7 linked regions of the Homo sapiens genome follow. The protein of the gene in region 1 purifies or fractionates together with the protein of each later gene. This does not show direct contact. Each region holds a gene or a part of one and is shown in the gene's direction. Other genes may lie near its edges.

Region 1 (3,500 bases):
CAAGTCTTCTGTGTCTAAGGTACCTGCTTATAGTATAAATTCTGCAACCATGGAAAATTGTGTTGATTTAAACACATCTTTTTTTAACCTCTCGTTTGGATGGGTTAACACTTAAAATGTTAGCCTGTAGCTTACTAGATATTTCCAGGTGAATGTTAAAAATTAAGTTTTGCAGTGAGCCGAGATCGCACCACTGCACTCCAGCCTGGGAGACATAGCAAGACTGTCTCAAAAAAAAAAAAAGTTTACATAGTTGTATGACTGTGTGAAGGTGTCTGAGTGTGCCGCGGTAGAAGTTTGTTTCTGATTTATTATAATGTATGTGCGGTTAAATTTTAGGAAGAAATAGATACGTTTTATTTTCTTGTTTTTTTATGATTGAAGGAGCAGAAGGTGTCTTTTGCAGGGGTGATCAGGCTCAGGGCACTCAACCTGGGCTCTTGAACGGTTCTGGTTTTCTGGGACCCCCTGAGATTTAGCTACAGCTGTGCGTGTCTGTCTGTGGTTTTCTCTGGGGAATCTCTGTAGTCTTCGTCAGGTTCACGAAAGGGCTAGACCCTGTCGTCTAGTTTAACCCCCTCTAGGGAGGGGCACAGACAGCCATTGCAGATCATGCAGCTGGTTCCTCGTGACCGGGGCCGTCGTGCATGTAGGAAGAGCCGGCTCGGCTCCAGACACTGCTGGGCTCACATGTCACGTGAATTGCCTCACTGAGACAGCAGCTCTGTGAGATCGTGGCTGTGAGTCGGAGAGATCTGACAAGGTTTCCTGTTGAAAGCAGGATGTGAATTGGGCGTGTGATGCTTGAGCCACATTTTCTTTATGAGTGCTTCCCACTCTTCCATTGCAGGAGCTCTGTCTGATCCGCTTCCACCCCGCCACAGAGGAAGAGGAGGTCGCCTATATCTCTCTCTACTCCTATTTCAGCAGCCGTGGCCGCTTTGGTGTTGTAGCTAATAACAACAGGCACGTCAAGGACCTCTACCTGATCCCGCTGAGCGCCCAGGACCCTGTTCCATCCAAACTCTTGCCCTTTGAGGGACCAGGTAAGCGCCGGCTTTCTGGGTGGAGGTGAGGCCCACCTGCACCTGCACCCCTCCTCCCACTGACATGCCCTGCTGAGTCCTGACCAGCCCAGGGCTCTCTGGGAGCAGGAGTTAGGAGCACAGACGCAGCGGTTAGCAATAGGATTCATCTTTGAGGGCGTAGGACTGTGGCACGAGAAGTACCCCTGATTCACAGCATAAATTGTCTTAGGAGAGTTTTTTAGAGAGGGAAAAACCCACAGCCTGCAACCAGCTCATCTTGGCCTCAGGTCAGAGAAGACTCAGTGCCCAGAAGCCCAAGGCTCAGCCAGAAAGGGAGGTGACACTCCCAGCGGCCCTGCTCTTTCCTCTAGACAGACTCGGGAGCCAGCACACACCGGGAAGTGGCTCCATCAGGGATCACTTCTCTAACAGGGATGGATTTCCAGGAGACTTAACAATAATGACATAGAAAACTATTTCTAGAAATAATTATTTTAAAATCTGCAGCTCAAATTGTAATAGGTTCATTCATCTTTGGCAAGCTATTTTGTGTTTGCACGTTCCTTGGAAAGTACTGTATTTAAACGATTATTTACAAATAGCCTAAAATACATCTTTGTCAAGGGTTGAGGGTGATTCCAGGGGCCACGTGCTCTGTTAGTGACCAGCTCTTTCATAGCCCCTTAGAAGAAGCTGATGTGACTTCAGTTAGGGGTTAGTATCTGATGCCCAACTGAAGTGTCTCCGTGGCCATGCAGTCCCCAGAGGATTGGTGTTCTCTCAAAGCGGGTGTGTGGATCACACAGTGTCCTCTGAAGTGCTTCGTCATAAAGGCAGGTGCTGTCTGGACCCTGTGCCTCAGTGCCCTCTGTCCCTGTCACCAGGCCTCGGCGGGTGTTCCTGCCATAGCTGTGCAGGGTGTTCCCACCCACACCCCTCATGCCGCACCCTAGCTAGCTGGGGTCCTGTAGGGGCCACTCCACATCTTGGGCGGGACTTCTGTCGCCCCAGGCACAGCCCACGTTCCTACTGGAGCCCATTCTTCACAGCTGGAGTGGGCTCAGCCTATGCCTGTGTTGTGGAATTATATGTCCATAAAGGGATTGGTTGGTATCAGTAATTTCAGGGTTAAATATTTGCTGGCGTGGTGCATTAAATTATTTTAGTGCCAGATAAATTTTTAAAAGCAAAGTGCTTTAGTGTGTCCCCTCAAATCCTACTTGGGATAAAGAGATGCCACCTAATGGGTGGCAGAAAGGACCCTGGTAGAGGTTCTTGGTGTTGCTTGTGAAGAGCTCTGGCCAGCTCCACGTGACCAGGGAGAGGAAAAGCCCGGCCCTCCTGGAGGTGAAGACCGAGAAGCTGGCCTCTCCGCACCTGTGAAGACCCACTGGTCAGTTGCAAGTGCGACAGTGTGTGCACTCAGTGCAGACACTGCAGCACCTCAGCACCTCCCTACCGGGGTGGAAAGAGCACTTTTTCTTTACAGAAACATGATTCTTAGATAGCGAGCCTCCCCTTTTTAAAACAATTGAGGCGATATTTCATCCTTTCTTGAGCTTCTCTCCCTGCTCATCTCCAAACTTGGAGCTGTCAGGTGAGCACGGTTGTAGGGTGTTGAGCGAGCCCCGGCGCATGCCGGGCACCGGGTTCCCCACACTGGGCAGTGACGGGGCCCAGGGAGGCCACCAGAGGAGCGGCGCCTCCATTCTCCCCACAGCAAGGGCTGGCTGTGCAGGTGCAGCCCCGGGGCAGAGGGAAAGGACAGGTCTCCCAGCACCTCCCGGATGGCACCGGGACAAGGAGGGCTGGGCTGGGGTCACTCACCTTGTCTGCTGAGTGCGATGGCACCAACCACCCACACTGTCAGCTCCGCGACCAGCTGGGGGAACGTCACACTCGCCCACCAAGGCACTTGCTGAGGCCACGACGCCGCCTGACGGGGACACACAAAAGCCCCAGGGACTTTGATCCACGATAAAGAGCAGAGGCGTCTGGGTAAAGTAACACAGGGCAAGGGACTTTAGAAAAGTAACAGCTAGTGAAACCTTTCCATACACTTCAGAAATGTTTTAACTTAAGACTTCAGTATAATGTTAACTTCTCCTGATGTCCTTGTTGACATGAATGCGTGTGCGTGAAATCTCACACACTTCCATGGTCACTAAACAGCCTTCACCCCGGGCCAGGCCATCGGGTACTCGGCCCGCTTCACGTACTGATTACTTGACTTGGCGTTTTCTAGATATAAACATGTACATGTGTGTCCTGGCTTTGTGGTGTAAATGTGTAGTGCGTGTGCATGTGCGCGCGTGTGTGTGTGTAAGGCTAGGTCCTGGCATGTTTCCCCTGTCTCAGCGGACCCTGTCCTCACGGAGATAGCCCAGAAGCCCTTGGACAGCACAGGCCACACCTGAGGGTGCTGATGGTGGTGACTCCACAGAGCTGTGGTCAGGGGTGAGCGTGTGCTGC
Region 2 (3,500 bases), on another chromosome or scaffold:
TATTAGTATTATAAGACTATTATTTTGTTTTTGATATGTAGCAACTAAAGATATGAGTACTTTTCAGAATTTAGGGGACTATGGTAATTTGAGATAATTATCTCTGTTTTCTTTCTTAGCCTGTGGACATCTCTACAGCAATGAGTGAACGGGCACTTGCTCAGAAAAGACTCAGTGAGAATGCATTTGATCTTGAAGCCATGAGCATGTTAAATAGAGCTCAGGAAAGGGTATGTAGCAGTTTTTTAAAAAAAATTATTATTTACCATCAGCCAACTCACACCAATGTACCAGTTTTAATGTCTAAATAAGAATTTTGCTAACTAGATGGTTGAGTTGTAACATCCTTTACCTTATTTTCAATGTCTTATTTTAAATGAAAGTGATTCGAGGCCTGATCATTTATTCAATAAATGTTTATTGTTTACTATGTGGCAGGAACTGTTTCTTGAGAGAACAAAATAGAAAAATTTCCCTGTCCTCACAGAGTTTACAATCTGGTGTATAAAAACAACTAAGTGCCTACAACCCTATGAAATGTGTAGGTATTAATAGTTGCCATATTTCAGCCGAGAAAACTGAAGTAAAGGGTGGTTAAGGCCAGGCATGGTCGCTGATGCCTGTAATCCCAGCACTTTGGGAGGCCGAGGTGGGGGCAAGGAGTCAGGAGTTCAAGACCAGCCTGGCCAAGGTGATGAAACCCCATCTCTACTAAAAATACAAAAATTAGCTGGGTTTGGTGTTGCATGCCTGTAATGCCAGCTACTCAGGAGGCTGAGGCAGGAGAAATGCTTGAACCTGGGAGGCAGAGGTTGCAGTGAGCCAGGATCGCGCCACTGTACTCCAGCCTGGGCAACAGAGTGAGACTGTCTAAAAAAAACAAAAGAGTGATTAAGTGATATCCATAGTCACACAACTAATTAGTGGGGGAACTGGGATTCAAACCCAAGCAATCTGAATCTGGAGTCTGTGCTTTTAACAATGGACAGCCTCTCCATTTCATTTCTACTGTTTTATGGTAAATCAGTAAGTACATGTTCAGACAGGAAATACATTGCTGACAGTGCAAGGTGTTTAGTAAATCTAATTTGTGTGAATGACAGCTGATCTTTATCACAACAAATGTTGGTGACTGAAAAAAAGTATACAAGCTTCTTTAAAAAGTTGTTTTACGGCCGGGTGCAGTGGCTCACGCCTGTTATCCCAGCACTTTGAAAGGCCGAGGCGGGCGGATCAGTTGAGGTCAGGAGTTCAAGACCAGCCTGACTAACATGGAGAAACCCTGTCTCGACTAAAAATACAAAATTAGCCGGGCGCGGTGGCGCATGTTTGTAATCAATCCCAGCTACTCTGGAGGCTGAGGCAGGAGAATCGCTTGAACTCGGGAGGAGGAGGTTGCAGTGAGCAGACATCGCACCATTGCACTCCAGCCTGGGCAACAAGAGAGAAACTCCATCTCAAAAAAAAATAGTCGTTTATGTATTCAAGTGGACAGTTTCCTACATTTAAACTCTTTAAACCTGTGTCATGAATTTAGTCTGTATAAATGTCTCAAAGGAAGTAATTAAGAATCCAGGCTGTCATGACATGTATTACAATACATTTGTATGAGATAGGAAGGGAGGGTGGGGACCCATTGTCATATGAGCTCTTTTTTGCATTTTTAGTGTATCTGTGTGATAGTTTGAAGAATATTAACAGCTGTATTTTTTAGTAGCTGTGCTTTTAGATACATTTCAAAATCTTATTAATGGGATTCACTAAATGTTGTCAAACTGCTTCTTTAGAAAGTTTAGGCAAACATTTAATGTTAAATATGTTTTAAAAGTTAAATATTTAAGTCTGCTTTTCAGCCATTTTTAGTGAATTATTACCAGTGATGTTTTAATCAGGTAATTTTACTTAGTTAACTGAGACTACTTCTTTTCTTCAGATTGATGCCTGGGCTCAGCTGAACTCTATTCCTGGCCAGTTCACAGGAAGTACAGGAGTACAGGTTTTGACACAAGAACAGTTGGCCAATACTGGTGCCCAAGCCTGGATTAAAAAGGTACACAGTATATGCACATATGAAAGTGTCGAACAAAAAGTTTAAATTTTTTGGAAACTGTTTATTAAAACTGCATGAAAAGACCAGTGACTCTAACCAAAGTTCCAAGTAAATTTGCTATGTGTATATGCTCCAGGGCGGACACTGAAGACGGACTGGATTCATGAGAAAATGGCAAATGTATAAATGTGGCTCAAGAGCCACTAACTTATAAGGTTATTTTAAAAATTGTTACTGCTGCTTTTGAAGGGGTGATTTAACTTTATTTTGAACGCTAATAGTGTATCAGGTGCTGTTCAGAATATTCCACAGTTCCTGCTGGACTACTAACCTAATCATTTCAAAGCAGTGGTTCTCAAATTTTTCTTCATCATGGGATACTTTATTACAGGTTTATTTTTAGTGGATCACTGCCCCCAAGAGCCCTCTACCACCTTAATTTTCCATTCCTCTATTCCTTTGCCCTCGCACCCCACCCGCTTCATTAGTGCCTGTGCCTTCTTGTAAGATCTCTTGGCCCCCGTTCCTCACTCCTCTTGTGACCTGTAGCCCCAGGACCTTTTGGTTGTCAGCTGCTGGTTACAGCAAGTGGTTGGGAGGCCCTAGTATTAGCTCTGCATGTGGTGATCTTGCCATGGGACTGGAAGCCTGAGGGAGGATGGCTGGAGTGGGGTGGGCTGTGGTGAAGGGGATGGGATGGAGATTAATCTGTGGACCACCATTTAGGCCCTAGTGGCCTCTGGTGATCCACAGGCTCAATTTGAGAACCACTAATTTCATGACAAAACAGATATGTAAGACCTAAAATCAAGGGAGAGAATGGACGCCTCGTGCTACGAAGATGTAGGTGCATCTGGTTTCAGATTCTGCAGTGAGACCTGTGAACTCCACCTACGGCTGCCTCATCATTGGGGGAGTCTTAGGTGGCTAAGAAGGGCATTCTGAAGAAACGCGTTGTGGTGAAGGGACAAAGCTTGGTTGGATGGGTGATGGGAAATTTGTTACAGGAGTACTGGCAGCATAGCAGTGCTGAAACTGGGAGGCCGCGTGGTCTAATGGATTGGGAAGGTTTCTTTATCCTGTTGTACTCCTGACTCCTTGTGTAATCATGGGCAAGTAACTCTTTGGAATTTCAAAGTCTCTGAGGTGTCTAGTGGTAATCAGTAACGTGATGGTTACCTATAGAGAGTTGCTATGAGTGCCAGTGAATGAGCTGAATTTCTGAAAAATGAGACATTGGTTGCTTTGTGTATTTTAATCTTGTAACATTTATTTCAATTTTGATAGCTTTATCTTTGTTGATCTTACTAACAAATTAATATGAAACATCATGTATACTCATTATGCCTGCCTTTTTTTGGGAAGTAGTTGCACTGATGTGTATAGTGAGTACACAGTTAGATTCATTAAGAAATTACAATTTCTGCAGTTTGCTGAGGGTTGGTGTTAG
Region 3 (3,500 bases), on another chromosome or scaffold:
CAACCAGCTAACTAACCACCTCCCCAGGTGAAAACTAGGAGGGGCAGGGAAGCGGTGGAAAGAAATGGGTTTGTGGTTTTCTGGTTTGTGGTTTTCTCATTTATATGAGTAGTTGTTATGCTTGAATGTGAAGTTCTTACACTTGAGTGTGAAGGTCACCCCTTCACATTGCATAGTGCAATGCAGATTCTCAGGCCCCGCCATGGAAAGTCTGACAGTGTGTCTAGGCTGTAGCCCCAGAATATGCATTTCTTTTCTTTTTCTTAAAGAGGCAGGTTCTCATTCTGTCACCCAGGCATGTGCAGTGGAATGATAATGGCTCACTGCAGCCTCGACCTCCCAGGTTCAAGTGATCCTCCAGCCTCAGCCTCCTTAGTAGCCACAGGCACATGCCACCATGCCTGGCTAATTAAAAAAAAATTTTTTTTCGTAGAGATGGGGTCTCCCAGTGTTGCACAAACTGGTCTCAAACTCCTTGCCTCAAATGATCCTCCTACCTTAGCCTCCCAAAGTGCTGGGATTATAGGGATGAGTCATGACCCCGGCTGTGAATGTGCATTTTTAATAAATATCCCAGGTGATTCTAATGCAGGTGCTCTGTGGGCCACCCTTTTGAAAGTTATGGGAAGAAATTACCTGGAATGTTTTGCTGGGATGACTTCCTTCTCCAGCTGCGTGATACAGATGCCCCTGCTTACGCTCAGCTGCAGGAATCTAGGAAAAGAATAAGTGAAGTTCGAGAAATTGCATATTTTTATTTCTGCTTAATTCAAGCAGAGAGTAGTTAAGCTGAAAGATTTGTTTGGGGCTGTCTTGATGACCAAAGAGGTCAATCCAGTGTTAATAAAGAAGATCAGGCTGGGCGCAGTGGCTCACGCCTGTAATCCCAGCACTTTGGGAGGCCGAGGCAGGTGGATCACGAGGTCAGGAAATAGAGACCATCCTGGCTAACACGGTGAAACCCCCTCTCTACTAAAAATACAAAAAATTAACTGGGTGTGGTGGCAGGCGCCTGTACTCCCAGCTACTTGGGAGGCTGAGGCAGGAGAATGGTGTGAACCCGCGAGGCGGAGCTTGCAGTGAGCCGAGATAGCACCACTGCACTCCAGCCTGGGCGACAGAGCGAGACTCCGTGTCAAAAAAAAAAAAAAAGAAGAAAATCATTAATAGTAAGAAATCAGTGGTTAGGAGCTGTCTCCTTAAGGGGCTCCCTTCCCTAGTGTTAGAAAAACTCTGGACCACATGACCCAGTGGGCTGTGTTTTTAATGAAAAAATGGATTACGGCACATGCCACGTTCTAAGTGTAGGTATTATTTTGGTAACTTTTTGGTGTGTGTGTGGGGGCACTGGTTTGTGATGTAAAATGTGCTTCTTCCCATGCATCACGGTTAAAACACTGGACAGCATCTGCTCTACCCCATAATGACTCTGGGGAGATATTCTGAGTTCCTACGTTTCTGAGAATTTCCCTGACGTGTGAGTGATATAGACCACATGCTCAGCAGAGTATGGGCTGCAGCGGCAAGAGCTCACAAAACTGATTTCCTCCGCAGACTGGCTGCCCTGCAGCCCAGTGTTAATTTATTTAAATAAAGATGGAGTAGGCAGGTGACAGAGATGGATGCCCGTAATAAGATTAAATTAGTGGGAACTGGCAAGAAGGCATGCTCTTTTTTGGAACTGATAGTGGAGAGATGAGGGAATATCACATTAGAAAAATTGGAGGAGGGCCCTAATTGGAAAGAGGAATCCAGATGCAGGAAATCTGGGTTCTGGTGGGAAGGCTGCCGTGATAATCTAATCAGGATATTGCTGATGTGTAGGGGAAGGCCCCTCTGGGAAGATGCCCTATTTCATTAGAAGAGCACCTTGAGAATGCCTCCTGTTAATGGTTGAACTGTAAAAAAGAATCACAAAACAAAACAAAAACATTCTTTGATTTCTTTCTTGCTCTAGAAATCAACTGATGAGCCTTCTGAGAAGGATGCTCTGCAACCAGGCCGGAACCTGGTGGCAGCCGGCTACGCACTGTATGGCAGTGCCACCATGCTGGTCCTTGCCATGGACTGTGGGGTCAACTGCTTCATGCTGGACCCGGTGAGAGACCTCACAGGAGGCTGGGGGCTTGGCTGGTGTCTGTGAGCAAATGAATGATATGTGTGGGGGATTGGCAGGGGTATGTGGAGGTGGGAGGTGATGCCCATGGAGGGACAGAGATGATGATGTGTGGTGGAAAGGGGGCAGGAGACCAAGAGAGAGTGTATGCCTCCCGAGCAGACTATGGAGGTGAGAAATGCCATCTCAGACTGGCACAAGAGGGGGTCTTTGTTCCAATGTGAATTCCTCAGAGCAGCTGTTACTCAAATGACCCAAATGCCAGGTCCAGGCAGGCCATAGGGATGATGAAGTGTGCTGGGGAAGGAAGGCCGGGGGGCAAGGGTGGAACTGGGGTGAACTGAAGAGTTCCAGCAATTACAATTGGGAGGAGGGGGCCCGCCTTGCCAAGGCTTCTATTAATGGTTCAAGAAACACTGGATTGTAAAAAACATAATGTTTCTGCATGTGTGCAACACTATGTTGGCCAACTAAAATGCATTTATGGACCTGATGGGGCTGTAGATATTCTGTTTGCCATAAACTGTATCCATCCATTTCTAGCTTTTCTACTTTAGTCACCAAAAGGCTGTTTTCCTGAGACGAATGGGTGTGCCAACTGAAGCAGTGGACGACATTGCTTCTTCAAAAATAGCTCCCACATTTATTCGTGTACATTTACACAAACCTTCAGTTAACTGGTGCAGTCTTTCTTTCTTTTTTTTTTTTTTTTCTGAGATGTAGTCTTGCCCTGTCTCCCAGGCTGGAGTGCAGTGGCGTGATCTCGGCTCACTGCAAGTTCTGCCTCCTGGGTTCGAGCGATTCTCCTGCCTCAGCTCCTGAGTAGCTGGGACTACAGGCGCCTGCCACCACACTTGTATTTTTAGTAGAGACGGGGTTTCGCCATGTTGGTCAGGCTGGTCGCGAACTCCTAACCTCAGGTGATCTGCCCGCCTCAGCCTCCCAAAGTGCTGGGATTACAGGCATGAGCCACCATGCCTGGCCAACTTTTTTAACTTTTAGAGATGTCCTCCTATGACATTAGTGAACTATGTGTAAAGTGCTTTTTGCTGGCAAACTGAACCCCAGGAACAGACAAGGAACAGGAACCTTCTGTGCGAGATAGGCTGCTGGAGGTGAGGCCGGGTCTGTGTGTGGCAGGAAGGCTAACTCAACACAGGCTGCCTTTGTCCCAGGCTGTCAGGGAAGTGGACTTTCACCTCCTTGGAAGCATGGGCACTTAACAAATAAACAAGGGTAGGGTAATAGCACTAGTTAAAGTCGCCAAATGTGGTGACCTGGGTAGGGGTGGGGTGGGGGAGTTAGTGGCAGAACCAGAGCAAAGTTCCACCTGAGCCCAGGATGGAATTTCGGGCACCACTGATGTTTGCTGACTGTGATTTGC
Region 4 (3,500 bases), on another chromosome or scaffold:
GATTCTCCCACCTCAGCTCTCGAGTACTGGGATTATAGGTGTGAGCTGCCATGCCCAGCAACTTTTTCAGTTTGAATAAATCGTAAATTACATTTACCTTGACTTTCAATAGAGAATATATAAGAATGTAAATTTATGGGAAAATGAATCACATTTTAATTTCTGGGGTCTTTGATTTCATAATTTCATTTAAAGTTCATTTTGAAGCTCATTTTCCCATATTTTTATATTCATGTTTAAGTTAAAATGTAGTAAAACATAACTACATGTTCTTGTTTCAAATTGGGAACTCAATTTGGAAGAGATTCCTTTTAGTCTGAGATTTTAAGATGTTTTAGCAGCAATCTTTTTTTTTTTTTCTTTCCTCGCTCTTGTTGCCCAGGCTGGGGTGCAATGAGGCGATCTCAACTCACCGCAACCTACGCCTCCCAGGTTCAAGTGATTCTCCTGCCTCAGCCTCTCGAGTAGCTAGGATTACAGGCATGCGCCACCTCACCCAGCTAATTTTGTATTTTTAGTAGATAGAGGGTTTCTCCATGTTAGTCAGGCTGGTCTTGAACTCCCGACCTCAGGTCATCCACCCGCCTCGGCCTCCCAAAGTGCTAGGATTACAGGCATGAGCCACCGTGCCCAGCCTTAGCAGCAGTCTTGTAAGATGGTAACTTTTTCACAGTAGCAGCTTATGAAACTTATGATGTGAAATAACTAAACAGACCCCTTCATATTAAGCTTTGCAACCTTTTTAAAAGAAATCCATGCATCATAACTTATTTTCAAAACATCAACTTTATGATATCTATCATATATATTTGCCTAGGTTTTTTGTCTTTTGGTTTTTGGGTTTTTTTTTTTTTATACTTTAAGTTTTAGGGTACATGTGCACAATGTATTTGGGTTTTTTTTTGAGACAGAGTCTCACTCTGTCATCCAGGCTGGAGTGCAGTGGCATGATCTCGGCTCACTGTGGCCTCTGTCTCCCAGGTTCAATAAATTCTCCTGCCTCAGCTTCCCAAGTAGCTGCATTACAGGCATGTACCACCATGCCTGGCTAATTTTTGTTTGTTTGCTTTTTGAGATGGAGTTTCGCTCCTGTTGCCCAGGCTGGAGTGCAATGGCGCGATCTCAGCTCACCACAACCTCCACTTCCTGGGTTCAAGCGATTCTCCTGCCTCAGCCTCCCGAGTAGCTGGGATTACAGGCATGCGCCACCATGTCTGGCTCATTTTGTGTTTTTATAGAGACAGGGTTTGTCCATGTTGGTCAGGCTGGTCTCGAACTCCTGACCTCAGGTGATCTGCCCACCTCAGCCTCCCAAAGTGCTAGGATACAGGCATGAGCCACCGTGCCTGGCTAATTTTTGTATTTTTAGTAGAGATGGGATTTCACCATATTGGCCAGGCTCGTCTCGAACTCCTGACCTCAAGTGATTCCCCCTTCTGCCTCCCAAAGTGCTGGGATTACAGGTGTGAGCCACCGCGCCTGGCCATGTTTTTTTTGTTTTTAAACTAGAAGCTCCAAAAGTTTTTAGTGAAGGCTAAGCTGTCATTGAATTATCCTAGAAATAATGTTTTTTAAATCACTTTATGAGCTGGGCGCTGTGGCTTATGCCTGTAATCCCATGGGAGACCAAGATGGGTGGATCACTTAAGGTCAGGATTTTGAGACCAGCCTGGCCAACATAGTGAAACCCCATCTGTACTAAAAATACAAAAAAATATCTGGGCGTGATGGCAGGCGCCTGTAATCCCAGCTACTCGGGAGGCTGAGGCAGGAGAATCTCTTGAACCCAGGAGGCGGAGGTTGCAGTGAGCTGAGATCACCCATTGCACTCCAGCCTGAGCAACAAGAGCGAAATTCTGTCTAAAAAAAAAAAAAAAATCACTTTATAAATATAGCTGTGGGGCTACTTTCATGCATATGGACTCAAAGGAAGCGCTCCCTAAACTGCATATTCATAAAAGTTAAAAGTAGAATGCTGTTCCTAATAAAAGTCTTTTTTTATAGAAGATTAATTTTTTAATTAATTTTAGTGTTGTGCTAAGGACCATGATGTTTTTCATTTCCTTAAAATTATAAGGTATTTTTTCAGTCTTTGAAGTTATTCATTAAAATTGAGAAAAGAACCCGTAAGCAGTATACAGATCAGAGCATCTTAAAATTTGGTAATTTTTTTTTTTTTGAGACCGAGTTTCACTATTGTTGCCCAGGCTGGAGTGCAGTGGCGCGATCTCGGCTCACCGCAACCTCTGCCTCCCGGGTTCAAGTGTTTCTCCTGCTTCAGCCTCCCAAGTAGCTGGGATTACAGGCATGCGCCACCACGCCCGGCTAATTTTGTATTTTTTTTTTTTTTGTAGTAGAGATGGTGTTTCTCCATGTTGGTCAGGCTGGTCTTGAACTCCTGACCTCAGGTGATCTGCCCACCTCAGCCTCCCAAGTGCTGGGATTACAGGCATGAGCCACTGCGCCCAGCCAGTTATTTTTATATGTTAGCCATGTCTTGATTTATGTTAAAGATCTGGGATAAGGCAGACAGTTTCCTAAAGGAACATATTACCTAGATTACATGAGAAGGAAGTGAGGAGCCAGGAAAAGATAGGCTGTTCTTGGGTTGGTAAGGACCAGTGGCCAGGTGGGTGTTGGCAGAGGAAAGACAGGCAAGGTGGGTGTGAAGCTTGGAAATGGATCTGTAGCTACAGGATGTTGGAAACAGAAAACCAGCTCTCACGCCTGATGGAATGTCTTGAGAGCTGGGTACCAGGAAGTGAAAACACTGCCCAATGAAATGAACAAGAGATGAATGAATTGCCTTGTTAGGCACCTTCCACCATTCCCTCTCTGCTACATCCCTGATGGCCCTCTTGGTGTTTGTTAACCATGGTAACTGCCTGTAGAATTGTTTTTAGTTGTTGGCTCTCTGAGTTGTAGCAAAGTAGAATTATGAGTTCATCCAATTCATATACACAGTCAATTAGCCTCATATCTTTTTTTTTTTTTGTCTTGAGGCCGGGTCTCACTCTGTCACCCAGACTGGAGTCCAGTGACATAAACAAGGCTTACTGCAGCCTCAACCTTTGGGCTTACGTGATCCTCCTGCCGCAGCCTCCCAAGTAGCTGGGAGTACAGGCATGTGCTACCACGCCTGAATAATTTTTGAAATTTTTGTAGAGATAGGGTCTCATTGTGTCATCCAGGCTGGTCTTGAACTCTTGGGCTCAAGCAATCCTCTTGCCTCGGCCTCACAATGTGCTGGGATTATAGGTGTGAAGCACCACACCCAGCCTAGCCTCATCTCTTCTATGGCCACAGTGCCAGCCAGCAGTCCATCAAACTTTGCCAGTGGCCACGGGGGTACTGGCAAAGAAGTATAGATGGATCCCTGTAACTTAATCACTGCTACTAGAAAAAAAAAAACTGAGATCAGAAGAGTGGGTCAGTTGTATTACCCTCAGCTAGAAGAAATAGCAGAAGAATAAGTGGATGAAGCATCTTGATATCATGAC
Region 5 (3,500 bases), on another chromosome or scaffold:
AAGGCCTTGCCGCTTGGCACCTTAGTTTCTAACACTGAGAGCTGTTTATTTTTAAACTTGGCCATGTAGCAGGTCAGATAAGACTAGCTGGCAACACCTGGCAGTCTTTCTGAGTTTACATTTTAAGGGAATAATTACAGGTGTTGTATGGCAGAGGTTTCACCCCCTTCTGTCCCCACCGAAAAGCTCAGAAGATTCTGTAGCTTTATTAGTGCCACTGTTGTGTGGACAGGGGCCATGCTTAGAACACACTTCCCAGCAGGGAAGGGGAACTTGACTGATTACAGCCTTTCCGGCACAGAAGCAGAGCAGTGTGGGTTTCTCAAGGTGTGTTTTGGGGCAGGCTTTCCTGTGCTGACCAGCTGTCCTCAGCCCCAGCTGTCCTCAGCCAATCAGGGGAGCCAGGTCCCAAGCAAGCCAGGTCTAGTCCAGCTGCCTGTCCTTTCCCGTGATGCTGACATGGGTTGTTTGTGTGGGCTTAGCACAGTCCTTAGGGCAGGGTATGTGCCCAGGCTGTGGAGCAGGCACGTGGCAGAGGAGGGGCCTAGGATAGGTCAGCTCCCTTGGTCGGTGGCAGTGTCGTCATTTCGTTTCCACCTGCTGCAGCCCCTCTCCCAGGATCAAGCTGTCAGTCAGAGCTTGAGGTTTACAGAGCACCCTTACCACCCTCACCTTGTGGGTCTGGCTGTAACGTTGTGGACAGGACAGGAATGTGCTCATTTTGTAGACACGAAGGCACAGAGAGGTCCAACTTCCGGGGCTGTTCTCTGTTGTCTCCAAGCCCCAGAGTCACGTGTCCCCCTCTGGGTTCTCACAGCCTGCCCTCCCCTCAGCCCACCTCTGTCATGACTCAGCGCACTTGGTCACTGTCCCTGTGACCACCTTGAAGACCAGCCATGGATCTTCTCGATTTCTGCCCCGGCTCCGTTGTGGCTCTCCCTCCCTCCAGCCTCACGCCACCCCACCCTACCCCCTGAATAGAAATGCCAGCCTGGATTAGGGCTTCCTTCCTGAGCCTCGGGGACTGAGAACAGTGAGTAGGGAGAGGCGACTCAGCCCCTCCTGCCATACTGGTCCAGAGCAGGCTCCTGCTTCCTCCTCTCCTTCCTCCTGCAGGATGGGCTTCCATTCTGCTGAGGGGACAGTCCTCATTCCACAGTGTTCTCAAGCTTGTGCTCAGAGCCAGGCTCTTTCTGGGAGTGAATGAACACAGTCCTGCAGAGGAAGGCAGTGCAGGGCTAGCCAGGGGCCAAGCAGGGCTGATAGGAGCCATGCCAGGAGAAGCGTTGGCATGGTGTGGGTGGGTGCCCAACACCTGGGAGAAGCATCTGCTCACTTCAGAAGGTCCCCCCTTCTCTGGCCACCTTTAAGTAAATTAAGACTTCTAAGATGTGGAAATTTGAGTTTTTATAGAGTTCAGTGGCTTTAAATAAAGGAAAGGCATGGCCGGGCGCGGTGGCTCACGCCTGTAATCCCTGCACTTTGGGAGGCCGAGGCGAATGGATCACCTGAGGTCAGGAGTTCGAGATCAGCCAGCCTGGCCAACATGGTGAAACCCCGTCTCTACTAAAAATACAAAAATTTAGCCAGGCGTGGTGGCGGGCACCTGTAATCCCAGCTACTCGGGAGGCTGAGGCAGGAGAATCTCTTGAACCTGGGAGACAGAGTTTGCAGTGAGCCAAGATCACGTCTCTGCACTCCAGCCGGGACAATAAGAGCGAAACTCCATCCCAAAAATAAAAATAAAGGAAAGGCATGTAATCCCCCAATTTTCCTAACACGAGGGGCAGAGCAAATTCAGCTTTGGGAACTGAAAAAGGCACAGAGTCCCTGAGAGAAAAATATCTGAAACCCTGAAAGGAAACCCTCTGTGGTCTAAATGGCCACATTGAACAGCCGAGGTGTGAGCAGAGCAGACCCCACCATGGCCGGCGCTGAGTGACCCGCAGCTTCTCTCCCCTGCACAGGGCCCCAGTACGGGACCGTGGAGAAGGCCTGGATGGCCTTCATGTCCGAGGCAGAGAGGGTGAGCGAGCTGCACCTCGAGGTGAAGGCCTCACTGATGAACGATGACTTCGAGAAGATCAAGAACTGGCAGAAGGAAGCCTTTCACAAGCAGATGATGGGCGGCTTCAAGGAGACCAAGGAAGCTGAGGACGGCTTTCGGAAGGCACAGAAGCCCTGGGCCAAGAAGCTGAAAGAGGTACATCTGTCCTGCAGGCTTCCCTGCCCGGCCTTGCTCTGCCTGGCACCCCACTAGCAGCACCACCTCCTGCACCTAGGACTTCCTGCCACTGGCTGTAGGCACAGGAGGCCAGACCTGGTAGAGATGAAGCCACTCCTCAGGCTAGAAGCCCATGGTAGTTGACATTTACCCAGGTTGAAGATGCTGAATGCTCTATGTGCATTCTTTAAATTTTTTATTTTTATTTTTTGAGACAAAGTCTCACTCTCTCTCCCAGGCTGGAGTGCAGTGGTGCAATCTCAGCTCACTGCAACCTGTGCCTCCTGGGTTCAAGCAATTCTGCCTCAGCCCTCCGAGTAGCTGGGACTACCGGCACATGCCACCACACCCTGCTAATTTTTGTATTTTTAGTAGAGACGGGGTTTCACCATGTTGGCCAGGCTGGTCTCGAACTCTTGACCTCAGGTGATCCACCCACCTTGGCCTCCCAAAGTGCTGGAATTACAGGGCATTCTTTAAATTTGATCCTACCAACACATTTTACAGATTTGGTAACTGAGGATCAGAACCATACATTGGTGGTAGAGCTCAAAGCCCAAGCTCTTAACCACTAACAGTACTTCTCCCAACCCTGGGGAAGTGTCTGCTGGAGACTTAAAAGTCCTTGCCGGGCGCGGTGGCTCACGCCTGTAATCCCAGCACTTTGGGAGGCTGAGGCAGGCGGATCACGAGGTCAGGAGATTGAGACCATCCTGGCCAACATGATGAAACCCCATCTCTACTAAAAGTACAAAAATTAGCAGGGCGTGGTGGCGGGCACCTGTAGTTCCAGCTACTCAGGAGGCTGAGGGAGGAGAATCACTTGAACCCAGGAGGTGGAAGTTGCAGTGAGCTGAGATCACGCCACTGCACTCCAGCCTGGTGACAGAGGGAGACTCTGTCTCAAAAAAAAAAAAAAAAGTCCCTTTGGCTGCTCTGCGTGTGCAGTAGCCTTTCTTTATTCCTTTACTTTCTCAATAAACTTGCTTTCACTTTATTTTTTTTTCAAGTCCCTTTGACGATAGAAAGAACTAGTTTACATTTTTCTTTCTCTTGCATAGGTTTTTATCCCAAAATTTCAAACATTGATACCTGTTTTTCTAAAAGTAGCAACCAAAGCCATTGAGTTTTGTCGAGCCTTGGCTAGTTGGAGGCTGTCATCTGTCCACCCCAGCCCTCAGCTTGTGTGCCCCGCCCCTGCCTGCAGCCTCGCCCCCCATTCCTAGCTGGAATGGAGTAGACGGTAGATGTGCCACCCCCAACACCCAGATGTTCT
Region 6 (3,500 bases), on another chromosome or scaffold:
CTTAATTGCCATTGGCCTCACAGTCACTCTCCCCCTTGTCATGGGTGCCTGACTGGAGCTACCCACACCTGCATAAACCTCTGAAGAGCAGGATGGACCTGGCACATTCATGGGTTTATCTGGAGACTGCACAACTATGAGTTGGTTTTCAAAAGGGTGTTTTGAAAACCACCACACATTGCTGGATGTCATAAGGCTTCATGGCTTAGTCAGAATTCTTTCATAGCTGTGGCTGCAGCTTGGGGAACTATAGTTAGAAGTGCAGGAAGAACATGGGGAGGGATAAAGTACAGAATCTCTGCAAGACAACCCCATTGGTGGGGAGACAGACTTGAGGCCGCTTTATTGGACAGGAGCCTGACTCAGAATGAGAAGTGAAGATGTTCTTCTGCCAGCAGGGTGGCACTGGAGGAGCTGTGATATTTCAGACCTTTCTTGGGATGAGTTGACTACAGTGCTTCACATCGAATGGCTTGCAGTTCAGTCAAGTTGGAGAGGCATGTGCTGGGATATATATACTATGGGAACATGGAGCAGTGAGCAATTCCAGGCTGTGGTCATGTCCACAAAGCCTCCATGGCAGAGGGAGGCTGTGAGTGTCAGTTCAGCAAGTTGACAAGAGGACAAAGGGCATTCCAGGCAGGAGAACTGCGTGTTCAGAGACATCCTTAACACAGTGTGACAGGCTCAAGAAGTCAGGGGTGGCCTGAGGCATGTGAGCCAGGGCTGGGGTGACAGGAAGCAGTGCCACCAAAAGTAGCTGAAGTATGCTGTTTGTGGCTAGCTCAGAAGCTCAGGCTGACAGGGAATCATCAGAGTAGGCAGAGCTGCTTCTGGTGTCCATGGATGAAGACTGGTGCGGTTGAGAATAGGTCAGAAGTAAAGAGGCTGAACCAACGCAGGGAGGGTGATGAGAAGAGGCCTGAGAGGTTCTGCAGGCGGTTCAGCAGAGCTTGGCTAATGCTTGGGTGCTGTGGGGTGGACAGAGAAGTCTGGGCCAGGTTCACTGCTGTTTGGCTAGTTTGGTGCATGACATTGCCACTGATGAGGCTGAGAGACCCAGAGGAGTTCAAGGCACCCATGGGACTTGTAAGTGGGCCCTTGCCATCAGCAGTCAGAACAGAGCTCTGAGGCTCAGCGGCCAGGTGTTGCACTGGCATAGAGACCTGGGAGTCACTGGCATGTTGATGTAAAGACTCAGCTAGAGTCAGAGGAGGGAAAGACAAGGAGCACCACTTTTAAGGAGTCAGCGTGTCTAGGACCTGCCAGGTCTCTGAGTGCTAACGGATCCTTTCTGGAGGAGACCACTGTCCAGTTCCCACATAGGCAGCCCCAGACATGCCCAGCAGGTCAGCTGGGAAACAAAGCTGAAGTCTGTGCTCTAGTAGGAAAAGGGCTGAGCTGCTGTTAATCATCACTGACCACAGGCCTCCCCTGCTGAAAGGGGGAGACATTCCGATTTAAAAGCTCAGTCCAAAGGCATCAGGTTGTTGGTCTGTGAAACACATTTGTAGTAAAGCAAAAGACTGCTAGGAAACCCAATGACAGCCTTGCCTGAAAACACAGGCACACATACATATACACATATCATTTCCTGCTCAGAGTGAGCACAGGCACCTTTTTGCAAGGAATGTTTTAAAATGGAGTTCATTGCAGCAAGGAAGGGATCCAACTAATTGTTTTGGAAAAACCCAGACCCTTCTGGGTCTCTCTAGCCCTCAGTGAGCAGTTAAGACTGGGTGCTCCTTGACAGGGCGCTCATGACAGAGGCCTTTACTCTTCTAACATCACTCCAGAGCCAGGGCCTCTGCCATCTTACCTCTGTTGGGCCTGTCTACACAGTAGCCCCAGAGTGCCCAGAATTCTGTTTTCTGTCCTCACAGCCATCTCTGTGGCTCATCCCAGATGATTTGAGATGCACCTGGGATTAGAGAGGTGTTAAGTGTGGACCGTGGCATGTCCTGACAATGTCCCTAGTATAGGTTGAGCATCAGAGTAACAGGGACTCCTATCCCTGTGGCCTCCAGTGGTCACAGCATTGACTGCTGGTGCTGGAAGGCCCCAAACACCATGGAGTGTGACGTCAGTTTATCAGTACATGGGAGACCTGCCCAGTTGGTTCAGTGAGCAAACATGTTCATAGGGAAGACTTTAGGGGGCCCCAGAACAGGCCAAGGCCCCTCATATCCCCTCTCCCAGCACCCTGCACTGGCCCTTTGAAGCATGCATTACGTTTATCTTTTAAATGACTAGGGGGTTATTTATTGTCTTTTTCCCCACCAGTTCCACAGGGACCACATCTGCCCAGCATAATACCTGAAGTGAATGCATAAATGAACAGGATGCTCCAAGTAAACATTCGAGACCTTGGATGGTGCTACAGTAGGAATACAGTTAGGGGCACCCCTCCACCCACCTGCAGTCTGATGGGAGAATGGGCACACGTGCATCAATGCTGTGGTGTGCAGCACATGGGGCCCTGAGGATGAAACAGCCAGATCTCAACATTTGGGAGGGCTGGCAGAAGGCAGAGGCAAGTGTGAGAGATAATGGAGGTCCCAGCCAAAGGGAACAGCTACTGCCCAGGCAGGGAGAAAAGAAGTGGAAGGGTATTTGGGGGGAACCTTGTGTGGCTCCCTGTTTGCTAGTTTAGACCACAGGTGGCCCAAGGCAAAGCTGGACATGTGTGCCAGGCCTAGATTTCTAGGGCATTACATGGCAGGCCAAGAGTCCTGGTTCTATCATGAGAATTGTGGCAGCCACAGAAAGCTTTCAGGCCAGGGCCGGGGCATGTTCAGGTGGGTGTGTACCCAGATTGCCCCACCCATGGGGTAGAGGGTGGATTAGAGGAGAGGGGGCTCTGGTAGGGAGACCTTTTCAGGAGACATTTGTGACCACTTGATTAAAATAGTGATGACCAGGATCCCATCACTGGAGGTGGAGAGAAAGAGCCCCACAAGAGGTGTAGAGGAGGGTTTTCCTCTGGACTGGGTGACTGGATGGGGATTGGGAGCAAGGAAGGAAAAAACACCTCTCTCTCTCTTCTCTAAAGATTGGCCCATCTGGTGGACTAGAAGTGCTCAGAGGGCCTCTTACTGCAACCTGACTATACACTGTACTGACTCCTGTAAGCTGTTCTTGCCTCTCACAGATAAAGAATCTAAAATAGAGACACTGCTTTCATCAGAGAATCTAGGTATCTGCCTTTACATCATCTTTTTAGGGGAGGGTGTCATAGCTGTTTTTCTTTTATGAAGCCTTTGGTAAGTTTATCAGCCCCAGTCTCAAGTGTATGAAAATGCAATTATTAAACAAGTGTATAGAATGTGGCCAAGAAATCCCATTTCCTTTTTCATCATGTGGCATAATGGCAAGGCACTTAAGTAAAATTGATGTCATGGTATAAATTGTGCAAAGCCAAGCCTTTCTTTTCAGGGATCAAACTGCTCCAGCGGAGTGCATCACCTGGACCCGGAGGGCCCTGCAGCTACAGACAGTGG
Region 7 (3,500 bases), on another chromosome or scaffold:
GTCTCACTGTGTTAGCCAGGATGGTCTCGATCCCCTGACCTCATGATCCGCCCACCTCGGCCTCCCAAAGTGCTGGGATTACAGGCGTGAGCCACTGCGCCCGGCCCAACAGTGTACAATTTTAATGAGGCAGTTGAGACCCAGATTGGGAGGCTGGTAAGGTCATTTTGGAATAATCCAGGTGAGAGATGAAGACTATAGGCTGTGCAGTGTTGGGCAGCCTCAGGTTCTGGCACCATAGTCCTTGGGGAGCTTCTAGGAGCCAGCTTCCTCTCCATGGTATCTTGCCATTTACACAGACACTTTCCTTCCTTCTGTTAAGGTGCTCCCCACTTGCCTGCTTCTCACTTCTCTGGTGCTTTAAACAGGAGTCAGCAAACTTTTTTTTTTTTTGTAAAAGGCCAAATAATAACTATTTTAGGTTTTGTGGGCCATACCGTCTATGTTGCAACTACTCAGCTCTGCTATTGTGCAAAAGCAGCCGTAGCCAGGCACTGTGGCTCACGCCTGTAGTCTTAGGACTTTGTGAGGCCGAGGTAGGTGGATTGCTTTAGCCAAGAAGTTTGAGACCAGCCTAGGCAACATGGTGAAACCCCATCTCTACAAAAATTACAAAAAATTAGCTGGACATGGTGGTGGACGCCTGTGGTCCCAACTACTCAGGAGGCTGAGGTGGGAGGATCTCTTGAGTCCAGGATGTTGAGGCTACAGCGAGCCGTGATCATGCTGCTGCATTCCAGCCTGGGCAAAAGAGCGAGACCTTGTCTCAAAAACAAAACAAAAAGCAGCCATAGACAGTAAGTAAATGAATGAATGCAGCTGTGTTCCAGCAAAACCTGATTTACAAAAACAGGCAGTGGGCTAGTTTGGCCTGTGGGCCATAGCTTGCCAACCCCTGGTTTAGAACATAACAAGAGTCTTTCTATGCTGTGGTGTAGCATATCGGTAAGAGTGTAAATCTGAAGCTACAATACTAGGTTCAAATCCCAGCTTTACTACGTATCAGCTCTTTCTCTGTGGCTTCATTTTCTTATTTGTAAAATGGGGATATTAGTAGTATACATTGTAAGACTGTCATAAGAAATAAGTTCATGTGTGTAATGCACTTAGCACAGTGCCTGACACATGGTAAACAGTAAGCGTTAATGATGATGAAGATAATTTGTTGTCTTTGCCTTTTCATCAGACATGTTTGAAGGAGTCAGATGGCAGTGATACTGAGGATTTTGGCTCTGATCACAGTGAAGACTGCCTTTCAGAAGCAAGCTGGGAACCTGTTGATAAGAAAGAGACTGAGGTATGTTTAGGCACATATGTGGTGGGTACTTACGTGAGCCAGTGAGTCATCATATTTTCCAGAGATGAATGACATGCTGTAGACTGAGCTGTCCCCCAGAGGAGTGTCAGCCTGGTAGGCAAATGGTAGCCAGTTATGAAGATAAGCCTTGTCTCTTTCTGCTGGGGTGCTTTCCTCATTGCAATGTTGCTCTTCCAGTCTGTCAACAAGGACCAGGAATTTTTCTTTGTGCCTTCTATTAGGTGACTCGCTGGGTTCCAGACCATATGGCATCACACTGCTATAACTGTGACTGTGAATTCTGGTTGGCCAAACGAAGACACCATTGCAGGTAAGATGTTTTGTATGATTTAGTATGACAAAAAACAGGGCAGGCCAGGCGCAGTGGCTCACACCTGTAATGCCAACACCTTGGGAGGCCGAGGCAGGCGGATCATGAGGTGAGGAGATTGAGACCATCCTGGCCAACATGGTAAAACCTGTCTCCACTAAAAATACAAAAATTAGCTGGGCGTGGTGGCGCATGCCTGTAATCCCAGCTACTCTGGAGGCTGAGGCAGGAGAATAGCTCGAACCAGGGAGCTGGAGGTTGCAGTGAGCCGAGATTACGCCACTGCACTCCATCCTGGCAACAGAGCAAGACTCTGTCTCAAAAAGGACAAAAAACAAAAACAAAAATAGTGTAATACATATGTATAGAACTAAGTGGAATTAGTTTGGAAGTGGACACCTCTTTATAGAAACTATTTTTGTTTGTCCCCAACTTTTCATTTAGTATCACTCATTCTCAGTATATTGGCATTTCTTAATATTAATTAATTAATTATTTTTTTATTAGCGATGGGCTCTTGCTATGTTGCTCAGGCAAGTCTCAAACTCCTGGCCTCAAGCGATTCTACTGCCTCAGCCTACCAAAGTGCAGGGATTACTGGTGTGAGTCACCCTGCCTGGCCAGTATATTGGCATTTCTGATGAACTCTTCCCTCTTTCTGCTTTGACAGAAATTGTGGGAATGTATTTTGTGCTGGATGCTGCCACCTGAAGCTGCCCATTCCTGATCAGCAACTCTATGACCCAGTTCTCGTCTGTAACTCATGTTACGAACACATTCAAGTCTCTCGTGCCAGGGAACTCATGAGCCAACAGCTGAAGAAACCCATTGCTACAGCTTCCAGTTGAATGCCGGGGAGAAACCTGTCCAATTTTAGCAGGTTTGAAGGGAGGATCTTCTTCAGTTGTAGTTTGGAAGGTTCCTTGGTGTGGCTCATGAAATCACAGAGCTCAGAGATACCATCTTGAGAAATCCTCCTTGGTATCATGAAACTGGAGCAGAGGAATTGCAATTTAGCAGGAGGTCCTCTACTGGTGATACCCTCACCTTGGGGTAATGGTCCTAACCCAGACCCAGGGTCTGGAAGCTTAATGTTGAGTTGGTGACTCCAGCCTCTTTCTCCTGGAGGTCACAAGATGATGATTGCGTAGATGTTGCCTGGTGCAAAGTGCCCCAAACAGCAATAGAAAGGCATATGTATAACCAAACTCCAAGTGATAACCAGACCCATCTCTCCTCCACCTTGACAAAAGCAGATTATAGTATACAAGGTAGGAATTCCTGTCCTATTTGAGATGAACTATATCCTGTACCTCTGTGCTCTGTGTCTGCATGAAGGCTCAGCCTTTAGAGGCACTCCTTCTAGTTGCATTAGTACTGTCTTTCTGTGGAGTTTGGTTTGAAGACTGGCTCAGCAAGTGGAGGTTTCAATGTATTTTTCAGTTGGCTCATCAGCCAGCATTGGTGAATATTCAGTTTAGGGGAACAGTTCTAGGGAGTGAGACATTTTTGGGAGCAGAGGAAAACTCTGCTGATGTTCGGTCCTGGCAAACATTGAGTTATTTTGAGCTGTGAAGGCAGTCGTCTCTGTTACACAGTGGCAGCTCTTGAGTTATGCACTGTGAAGAATGAGAAGGGAAAAGCAAAAATTATCCTTGTGAAATATCTGCTGATTGTGCCCTACTCTTTGCACCTGACTTTTCCTAGTTGTCCTGGTGCTAACACAGGAGCTACACCTTGATCCTCTCCTGGCATGAAAATAAAACAAAGGTTTTCGTTGTTGTTGTTCCATTGCCCATTTCCCCCATGTTGTCTTTCCCTTGGCTGATGCCTCCTCTGGGTCACATTGCTTCTTATCCTGAACACTTGACA

What was found.
Region 2: the proteins of DIDO1 (region 1) and SON fractionate together in Homo sapiens (co-fractionation; one large-scale study listed by BioGRID). This does not show direct contact.
Region 3: the proteins of DIDO1 (region 1) and FBP1 purify together in Homo sapiens (affinity purification with mass spectrometry; one large-scale study listed by BioGRID and IntAct). This does not show direct contact.
Region 4: the proteins of DIDO1 (region 1) and KCMF1 purify together in Homo sapiens (co-immunoprecipitation; one large-scale study listed by IntAct). This does not show direct contact.
Region 5: the proteins of DIDO1 (region 1) and PACSIN2 purify together in Homo sapiens (affinity purification with mass spectrometry; one large-scale study listed by BioGRID and IntAct). This does not show direct contact.
Region 6: the proteins of DIDO1 (region 1) and MACROH2A1 fractionate together in Homo sapiens (co-fractionation; one large-scale study listed by BioGRID). This does not show direct contact.
Region 7: the proteins of DIDO1 (region 1) and MTMR4 purify together in Homo sapiens (affinity purification with mass spectrometry; one large-scale study listed by BioGRID and IntAct). This does not show direct contact.

What each region holds. Positions count from the first base shown.
Region 1 is NC_000020.11:62,888,506-62,892,005, reverse strand, and holds part of DIDO1 (death-inducer obliterator 1), read left to right. Parts: coding exon 1-19; intron 20-850; coding exon 851-1,046; coding exon of another isoform or gene 1,047-1,075; exon of another isoform or gene 1,076-3,500. UniProt on the Homo sapiens protein: Putative transcription factor, weakly pro-apoptotic when overexpressed. Tumor suppressor. Required for early embryonic stem cell development.
Region 2 is NC_000021.9:33,567,038-33,570,537, forward strand, and holds part of SON (protein SON), read left to right. Parts: intron 1-119; coding exon 120-230; intron 231-1,933; coding exon 1,934-2,050; intron 2,051-3,500. UniProt on the Homo sapiens protein: RNA-binding protein that acts as a mRNA splicing cofactor by promoting efficient splicing of transcripts that possess weak splice sites.
Region 3 is NC_000009.12:94,608,519-94,612,018, reverse strand, and holds part of FBP1 (fructose-1,6-bisphosphatase 1), read left to right. Parts: intron 1-1,957; coding exon 1,958-2,098; intron 2,099-3,500. UniProt on the Homo sapiens protein: Catalyzes the hydrolysis of fructose 1,6-bisphosphate to fructose 6-phosphate in the presence of divalent cations, acting as a rate-limiting enzyme in gluconeogenesis. Plays a role in regulating glucose sensing and insulin secretion of pancreatic beta-cells.
Region 4 is NC_000002.12:84,977,661-84,981,160, forward strand, and holds part of KCMF1 (E3 ubiquitin-protein ligase KCMF1), read left to right. Parts: intron 1-3,500. UniProt on the Homo sapiens protein: E3 ubiquitin-protein ligase which accepts ubiquitin from an E2 ubiquitin-conjugating enzyme and then transfers it to targeted substrates, promoting their degradation by the proteasome.
Region 5 is NC_000022.11:42,889,650-42,893,149, reverse strand, and holds part of PACSIN2 (protein kinase C and casein kinase substrate in neurons protein 2), read left to right. Parts: intron 1-1,967; coding exon 1,968-2,203; intron 2,204-3,500.
Region 6 is NC_000005.10:135,389,232-135,392,731, reverse strand, and holds part of MACROH2A1 (core histone macro-H2A.1), read left to right. Parts: intron 1-3,500. UniProt on the Homo sapiens protein: Variant histone H2A which replaces conventional H2A in a subset of nucleosomes where it represses transcription. Nucleosomes wrap and compact DNA into chromatin, limiting DNA accessibility to the cellular machineries which require DNA as a template.
Region 7 is NC_000017.11:58,490,639-58,494,138, reverse strand, and holds part of MTMR4 (phosphatidylinositol-3,5-bisphosphate 3-phosphatase MTMR4), read left to right. Parts: intron 1-1,186; coding exon 1,187-1,297; intron 1,298-1,539; coding exon 1,540-1,628; intron 1,629-2,298; coding exon 2,299-2,476; 3' UTR 2,477-3,500. UniProt on the Homo sapiens protein: Lipid phosphatase that specifically dephosphorylates the D-3 position of phosphatidylinositol 3-phosphate and phosphatidylinositol 3,5-bisphosphate, generating phosphatidylinositol and phosphatidylinositol 5-phosphate.